Linked DNA regions of Homo sapiens. The protein of the gene in region 1 purifies or fractionates together with the protein of each later gene. This does not show direct contact. Each region holds a gene or a part of one and is shown on either strand. Other genes may lie near its edges.

Region 1 (3,500 bases):
CTTCCCCCATCTTTGCATCCCATCCCTCCACAGCCAGAGCTGCCTGGCCAGGGGCACGTACCCCGCTGCCCCAGACGTAGTACATGTAGGCAGCTGCCTCCTTCCTGTTCAGCTTGTACACCTGCTGCAGCTTCCGCAGGTACACCTCTGCCTCCTCCTCCTCATTGGCGAAGCTCCGGACAGTCTTCATGGCACTGATGGTCTCCTCCGCCGTGTTGCTCGCTCTGGCCAGGGCATTCTGGACCTCTTTGGAGAGCCTCTATGGACAGGAGGGGGACAAGAAGGAGAAGACCCCAAAACAGCCTCACTATGTACTGGAGCCCCCAGGCCTCTCTGGGTTTTTCCACCCTTCGCTGGCACCAGCTATATGCAAGAGGTTCCTAGGACAAAAAGACAAGATCTAGCCCTTTCTCCCCCATCCCCTTCTGGCTCAATTTGACACACTCAGGTAGTCAACTCCAGAGAGGCTCTTGGGGCAATGGTTTCAGCTCCTGAAGGATAGGGCACGGTGCTGATCGTTAAGTCATCCCCAGTATTCAAAAGAGGCTATTCATGACTGGACAGTTTTTGGTAATCCTTTCAGAAAAGGGGCCTCAACACCTGACCCTGTGCTGGAAGAGCAGGGGATGCCTTGGACGGTTGTTCAGGTTGTACACTATTTAAGAAACACCAACTATTAAAGGGGCACCATTTACATCATCAACATAAATTATGTTAGAGCCTGAGGGTTGATAAAGAGATTCCAGAACTCCCAGCCAAGTTCTACATGGTGGCAGGGGCCATGGGTTGTGAAATCTGCCCACACCATGTGCATGTCACCACAGGCAGAGCTGAAAAGTGGTCCCAAGTGTGCGGCCATCAGGCTGCTGTTCACCAGAGTCCTGGAAGAGGCCCCTGGGTGGAGCTGTTCACACTTTGCAGGAGTCACTATGCTGATTCTCAAGCCAGCCAGGAAGGCTGCCTGAGAGTCCAGGACAGGAGCATGCACTGGCATGTCCCATGACCATGTGTCACGCCCCAGCCGCAGGAAGCATGCAGGGTGCCTGAGTCATGTTTGGCCATGGGCGGTGTGTGTGGTTTGTGGAGATGACTCGCTGGCTACACACAACACATTCAGGCATGGGGTGGAAAACCCAAACAGAGCCTTCCTGAGGCCTCCCTTAGCTGAACTAAAAGGCAGGGCCTGCAGTGCACACAGAGGTGGGGGCTGAGGGGGAGCTCCAGGGTTTCTTGCTCCATCCCAGGGGCTGGTGGGAAGGCCGGAAGCAAGGGGTGGGGAGCAGCGTGCCAGAAATGGCTCAGACTCTAAAGAATAGATTTACTTTCTCATCTCAGTGAGGACGGTGGGGAGGCTCGTGACCAGGAACTTCGGGAAGAGGTCCTACCTGTGTGGCTGGAGAAGACTGTGGGGAGTGGCCTCACCGGGGGCTGGGTGGGAGATGGCTTCCTTTGCTACCCTGGTCTCAGGTCACCAACACCAAAGGCTCCAATGGAGCTGCGACAATGACTTACCCGGCACCACCTGGAGGCCGTCATGCATCCAAGCCCCTGCTCTAGAAGTACCCCACGTGGGCCTGGGTGACTGTGAGGGGGTTGCCTGTACCTGTCACAGGGTCACAGCCCTGCCTGTCTGAACCCAGCCTGTCTGTCCCTTAGGGCTCGGGGGCACCCGCCCATTCAGGAAGCAGGAGGAGGGTGAGGTCAAACCTGGCTCACGGCCCTAGCTCGGAAGCAGAAGCAGTGCCGTGGGGTGGCCAGAGGGGACAGCAGCCTGCCCATGATGGCATCACAGCGGGCCCGCGATGGCATCACAGCGGGCCCGCACCACCCCCACATACACACCAGGCACGTTCCAACCCAGGGCCTTTTCACTGGCTGTGCCCTCTGCTCAGCACATACCTCCCAAGATGCCCGCCTCCTTCAGACCCTTATTCAGATGTCCCCTTCTCAGCAAGACCTATTTAACTTGTATTTATTCATTCATTTTAGAGACAGGGTCTTGCTGTGTCACCCAGGCTAGAGTATAGTGGCACGATCATTGCTCACTACAGCCTCGACCTCCTGGGCTCAGGCGATCCTCCACCTCAGCATCCCAGGTAGCTGGGACCACAGGCATGCGCCACCAAGCCCAGCTAACTAAAAAAAATTTTTTTTTGTAGAGATGGGGTCTTGCTATATTGTCCAATCTTGTCTCGAACTCCTAGGCTCAAGTGGTCCTCCTGCCTGTGCCTCCCAAAGTTCTGGGATTACAGGCATGAGCCACCGGGCCCAGCCAGTAAATCCAATTTAAAATTGCAGCTACACCCAATGCTCCCAATCCCTCTGCTCACTTCATGTTTCTCCTTAGCACTGACCATCTTTTACTGTATTGTGGATTCTCATTCTTTATGCTGTTGGTACCTAGTATCTGTCTCTGACACTAGATACAAGTTCCAGGAAGGCAGGGGCCTTGTCTTTTTCACTGATGTATCCCAGTGCCTGGGACATAGCAGGTGGTCAATAATTATTTATTGAATGAGCGAAGAAATGAATGAATGAATGCAAACACAGCCTCAAGACCTGTCCTTCACTAGCCCTTAGTGGCCCCCTGAGCCCCTCCTAAGGGGATGTTTGGGGGCTGCCAGGGTGCACAGTCCCCAGCAGAGACAGGGCAGGCCTACCTTGTAGTACTTGCCGTAGATGTTGGACACCATCATGATGATGGGGAAGCCCATGAAGGTGACCAAGGAGAGCTGCCATGAGAGGCTGAACATGAAGACCACCACGCCCGTGACCTTGACTGTGTTCCGCAGGAAGACATTGATGTTCTGGGAGACCAGGTCGCTGACCATGGTGGTGTCCGAGGTCAGGCGGGAGATGAGGTCCCCTGGAACACACGCGGCTCAGCTCTCACCACAGCAACCCGGGCCTTGGGGGTGGCGGTGGGGGATGCTAAGGGGCCTCTGAGACAGACACTGGGAAGCCGGGCCTCCCTACCTGTGGGCGGGGTTGGGGGGTGGGGGAGAAGAGCAGATACCCCTCGAGGGCTACTCTGAGCCAATCCCAGTCATCAGCATCTTGCTTAAGCTTCATGACATCCCGCTGTACAGCGGAGGAGGCTGGGGCTCAGAACAGGAAGGCCCCCGTAGAGTCACACAGCCTGTCCGTGACTGAGCCAGACTTCAAACCCATGTCTCCTCCCTGTCACTGGCAGAGGGGGTAACTCCTCTTCCCTTCTAGGGAAATAACAACCTGGCTGGTGGCGGGCAGGAAAGCGCAGACACTTCTTACCTAAGTTGGACATTGTGCTAAGAGCTGTGTAAGGACCCCATGGGGTGGCTACTATCCGTGTTCCCATTTTACAGACAAGAAAACAGAGGATCAGAGAGGTGAAGTTCGTGAGTGGAGGAACCAGGGCTTCGACCCAGGCCGGTGTCTCTCAGAGCTTGGATCTTGGTGGATATTCTATCGTCTTCCCCGTTGTGGCCCCTGGCCCTCACCTGCTGACCCCCATGGGAGCA
Region 2 (3,500 bases), on another chromosome or scaffold:
ATACCACTGCTACATATATACTTAAAAAAAAGGAAATCAGTATATCAAAGAGGTATCCGGACTCTCATGTTTATTGCAGCGCCATTCACAATAGCCAAGATTTGGAAGAAACCTAAGTGCCCATCAACAAATTAATGAATAAAGAAAATGTGGCACTTAAAAACAGTGGAATACCATTCAGCCATAAAAAAAAATAAGATCCTATCGTTTGCAACAACATAGATGGAATTGGATGTCACTATGTTAAGTGAAATAAGCCAGGCACAGAAAGAAAAACTTCACGTGTTCTAACTTATCTGTGGGAGCTAAAAATTAAAACAATGGAATGCATGGAGACAGAGAGTAGAGTGATGGTTACCAGAGGCTAGCAAAGACAGTGGGTTGGGTGGAAGAGGGAATGGTTAATGAGCACAAAAAAATAGATAGAATAAATAAGATCTAGTATGTGATAGCACAACAGAGGGATTATAGCTAACAGTAATTTATTGTATATTTTAAAATAACTAAAAGAGTAGAATTGGATTGTGCTTAAGGTAATGGATACATACCTCATTTAGTCTGATGTGGTTATTATGCTTGAGGTAATGGATACATAATTACCATTGTGTATCCATTAAAGGATAAATGCTTGAGGTAGTGGATACATACCTCATTTAGTCTGACGTGGTTATTATGCATTGCATGTCTGTATCAAAATATCTCATGTGCCCCATATATACAGCTACTTTAGATGCCCACAAAATTAAAAATAAAAAATGTATTAAATTTAAAAAATCAATGAATAAAATAAAAGAATCAGTAAAGAAAGAAAAAGATTATCTATACATGCTGCAGTTCTATGAAGATTGAGTCCCTTTCCAGTTGCGATATACACTAAAAATTCCACTAACAGGACAAATACACTTTTATACTTACAATATCTGTCGTTAGCGCAGCACAGGGATGAAAATGATCAAAATAAACATCATCATGTTTTACTGAACATATATGCTTCTCTAAATCATTGTATCTCTCTCCACAGAGCACTAGATACGAAGAGCAAGAATATCCAAATTAATGGACATACGATTATTAGAATATGGATTTAAAACACAAAAATCCCTATAAAAAGCTTTGTAGTAAAATATAAAAATATATAGTAAAACATAAAAAAAATAAGCTTACCAAGTCTAACTTCATATGATTGATTTTTATATGAATGGTCTTGGAGAAAGTTGAGACATTTGTCAGCCTGTTTTTCAGAAATACATTTCTCTTCCATAATCTTGTCTGCCTGTTTCCAGTACTGTTTTACTGATTGCAGCCACCTTACAGAATAAACATGCATATAATTTAAATAAAATATAGAAGTATTTATCAAGAACTTGGATATTTTAAACAAAGAAAATTTCACAAGTTTAAAAATTTAGAGCATGCCCTCTCAATTTAAACCACCTGAGTTGACTTCAGAGCTGTGGACTTTGGGCAAATTCCTCAGCTTCTCTATGCCTCCCTTTCTCCATCATAACATAGAAGATAACGAAAGTATCTTTCTCATAAGGGTGTTGCGTGGCTTGAATGAGTTAGCGTGCCTGCCACATAGAAAGCACTGTGTGCTTGTTACCAGTGCTGCTGTTACTGCCATCGTCGCTGTTACCAGGAAAAATCAAGTCTGGTAACAAAACAATACTTGACGTTCATATAATGCTTTGTTGTTCTTATGATTGTCATCTGCAAGGTCAATGACTGTGTCCCAGTTATTTCCATTTTAGCTTTAATTATTGGATAAGGACAAAGAAAGGGGGATACAATTCTCTCTCTTACTTCAGATGACATTTACTTGAAAATTTTTAGAAATTGTCCTGCACAATTTCAGATCTGGCTATGGGAGACCTTGATTTTCTTTGGAGAAGATGTTTTCCTTCTCTAACTTCCAGGAAATATATCTTCAAAAAAATTTGAGAAAGCCAGACATGGTAATGTACACCTGTGGTCCCAGCTACTCAGGAGGCTGAGGTGGGAGGATTCCTTCAGCCCAGGAGTTTAAGGCCAGCCTGGGCAACAAAGCAAGACCACTGACGTTTCAAAGATTGGGTAATAAATTTATTTGAAAGTTATCATAGAAAAAACCTTAAAGACTTCAGACCATATAGACAGTATATAATTCAACCACTGAATATATAACAACCACTCTTTTTACCTATACCTACTTGGTGAGAAGATTTGGGTTATTTATGGTAGCTGAAAGAACCAAAAAGGGACATCGAATAATGACAAGGAGGAGCTCCCAAAATTTTGCTCCAACTTCTCTGCCAAGATAATGGACCTAGTAAAGAAAAAAAAATCAGTTGAAAAGTTGATGTCAAAATCGTAAATAAAAAATAGAAGCATAAAATCATCATGCATATTTTTCCAGTTTCCTATAAATGACCTAACCTAAATAAAGTGAATGGTGATAAATTCAGACAATAGACATCATGACACTTAACTGTCTCCAATCTCCATATCGAAACCATTATTAATTCCTACAGATTCCAATTCCAAAAATCTATTTTGAAGCTATGTTTTTCTCTCCATTTTTTGTTGTCATTGAAGCCACCATCACCTGGCTTTCTACAACAGCCTTCTGATTTTTCTCTTAGCTTCCACTCTTTCTCTATACTTTCTTCACATCATAGCCCTAATGGTATTATTAAACAAAAATCAAATTAGGCTACATACCTAATTAAATCCCTACACTGTCCTCCCAATGCATTTACAGTAAACCACAAGCTGCTTAACTGGAAGTGTAACTTCCTGCATGGTCTGGCTTCTTCCCACCTTTCCAACCCCATCTCAGGCCACTTTCCCCGCCATGCACTCTGCTCCCAACATACTGGCCTTCTTTTCATACCTTGAACACACGTGTTCCACCTGAGGGCCTTCACATATACGACCCTGCTACTTAAAATCCTCATCCACCTCTTAGCTGACCATTCCTGCTTATCCCTGCAAAGCCCAGCTGAAGGTCATTGCCTCAGAAACACCTTCCCTGAGTACCTGCTCCAAAGTTGTTGTTCTTACTTCCCATTTTGCTATTATCTTGGTGAAAACTAACTGATTTTTTTTTCTTCAGAGTTTGTATCACAATGTTTACTTATATTTTCATTGGTACATTTACTTATTTAATTGCTCTCCCCTTCACTAAACCACAAGGTCAGTACTGGCATATCAGGGAGAAAGCACAGTGTCTAGCACAGAGTAGGTACTCAATTAATATCTGTTGAATGAATGAATCAATCCTCTTTGGTTCAATAATGCAAATTAAGACTTAGAGAGGAGGTCCAAATTTTGGTCTTAAACAGAATACATCGTGACAATTGGGTCTCAGCTGGAAAGACTTACTAATCAAGGCTAGTAATAAATACATAAAGAAGAATATTTTCATATCCCTTCTGACTTTGATCTAGTCAGATAATCGCCCACTTTACCAAATGCTAATCTTATATTTTGTATCAGCAGGCAATTTCTCTGAACTTTCT

The links. Proteins that work in one complex are often made in the same cells at the same time.
Region 2: the proteins of ABCB9 (region 1) and DDX60L fractionate together in Homo sapiens (co-fractionation; one large-scale study listed by BioGRID). This does not show direct contact.

Annotation. Positions count from the first base shown.
Region 1 is NC_000012.12:122,945,964-122,949,463, forward strand, and holds part of ABCB9 (ABC-type oligopeptide transporter ABCB9), read right to left. Parts: intron 2,867-3,500; coding exon 2,661-2,866; intron 260-2,660; coding exon 62-259; intron 1-61. UniProt on the Homo sapiens protein: ATP-dependent low-affinity peptide transporter which translocates a broad spectrum of peptides from the cytosol to the lysosomal lumen for degradation.
Region 2 is NC_000004.12:168,414,493-168,417,992, forward strand, and holds part of DDX60L (probable ATP-dependent RNA helicase DDX60-like), read right to left. Parts: intron 2,306-3,500; coding exon 2,190-2,305; intron 1,308-2,189; coding exon 1,165-1,307; intron 1,026-1,164; coding exon 916-1,025; intron 1-915.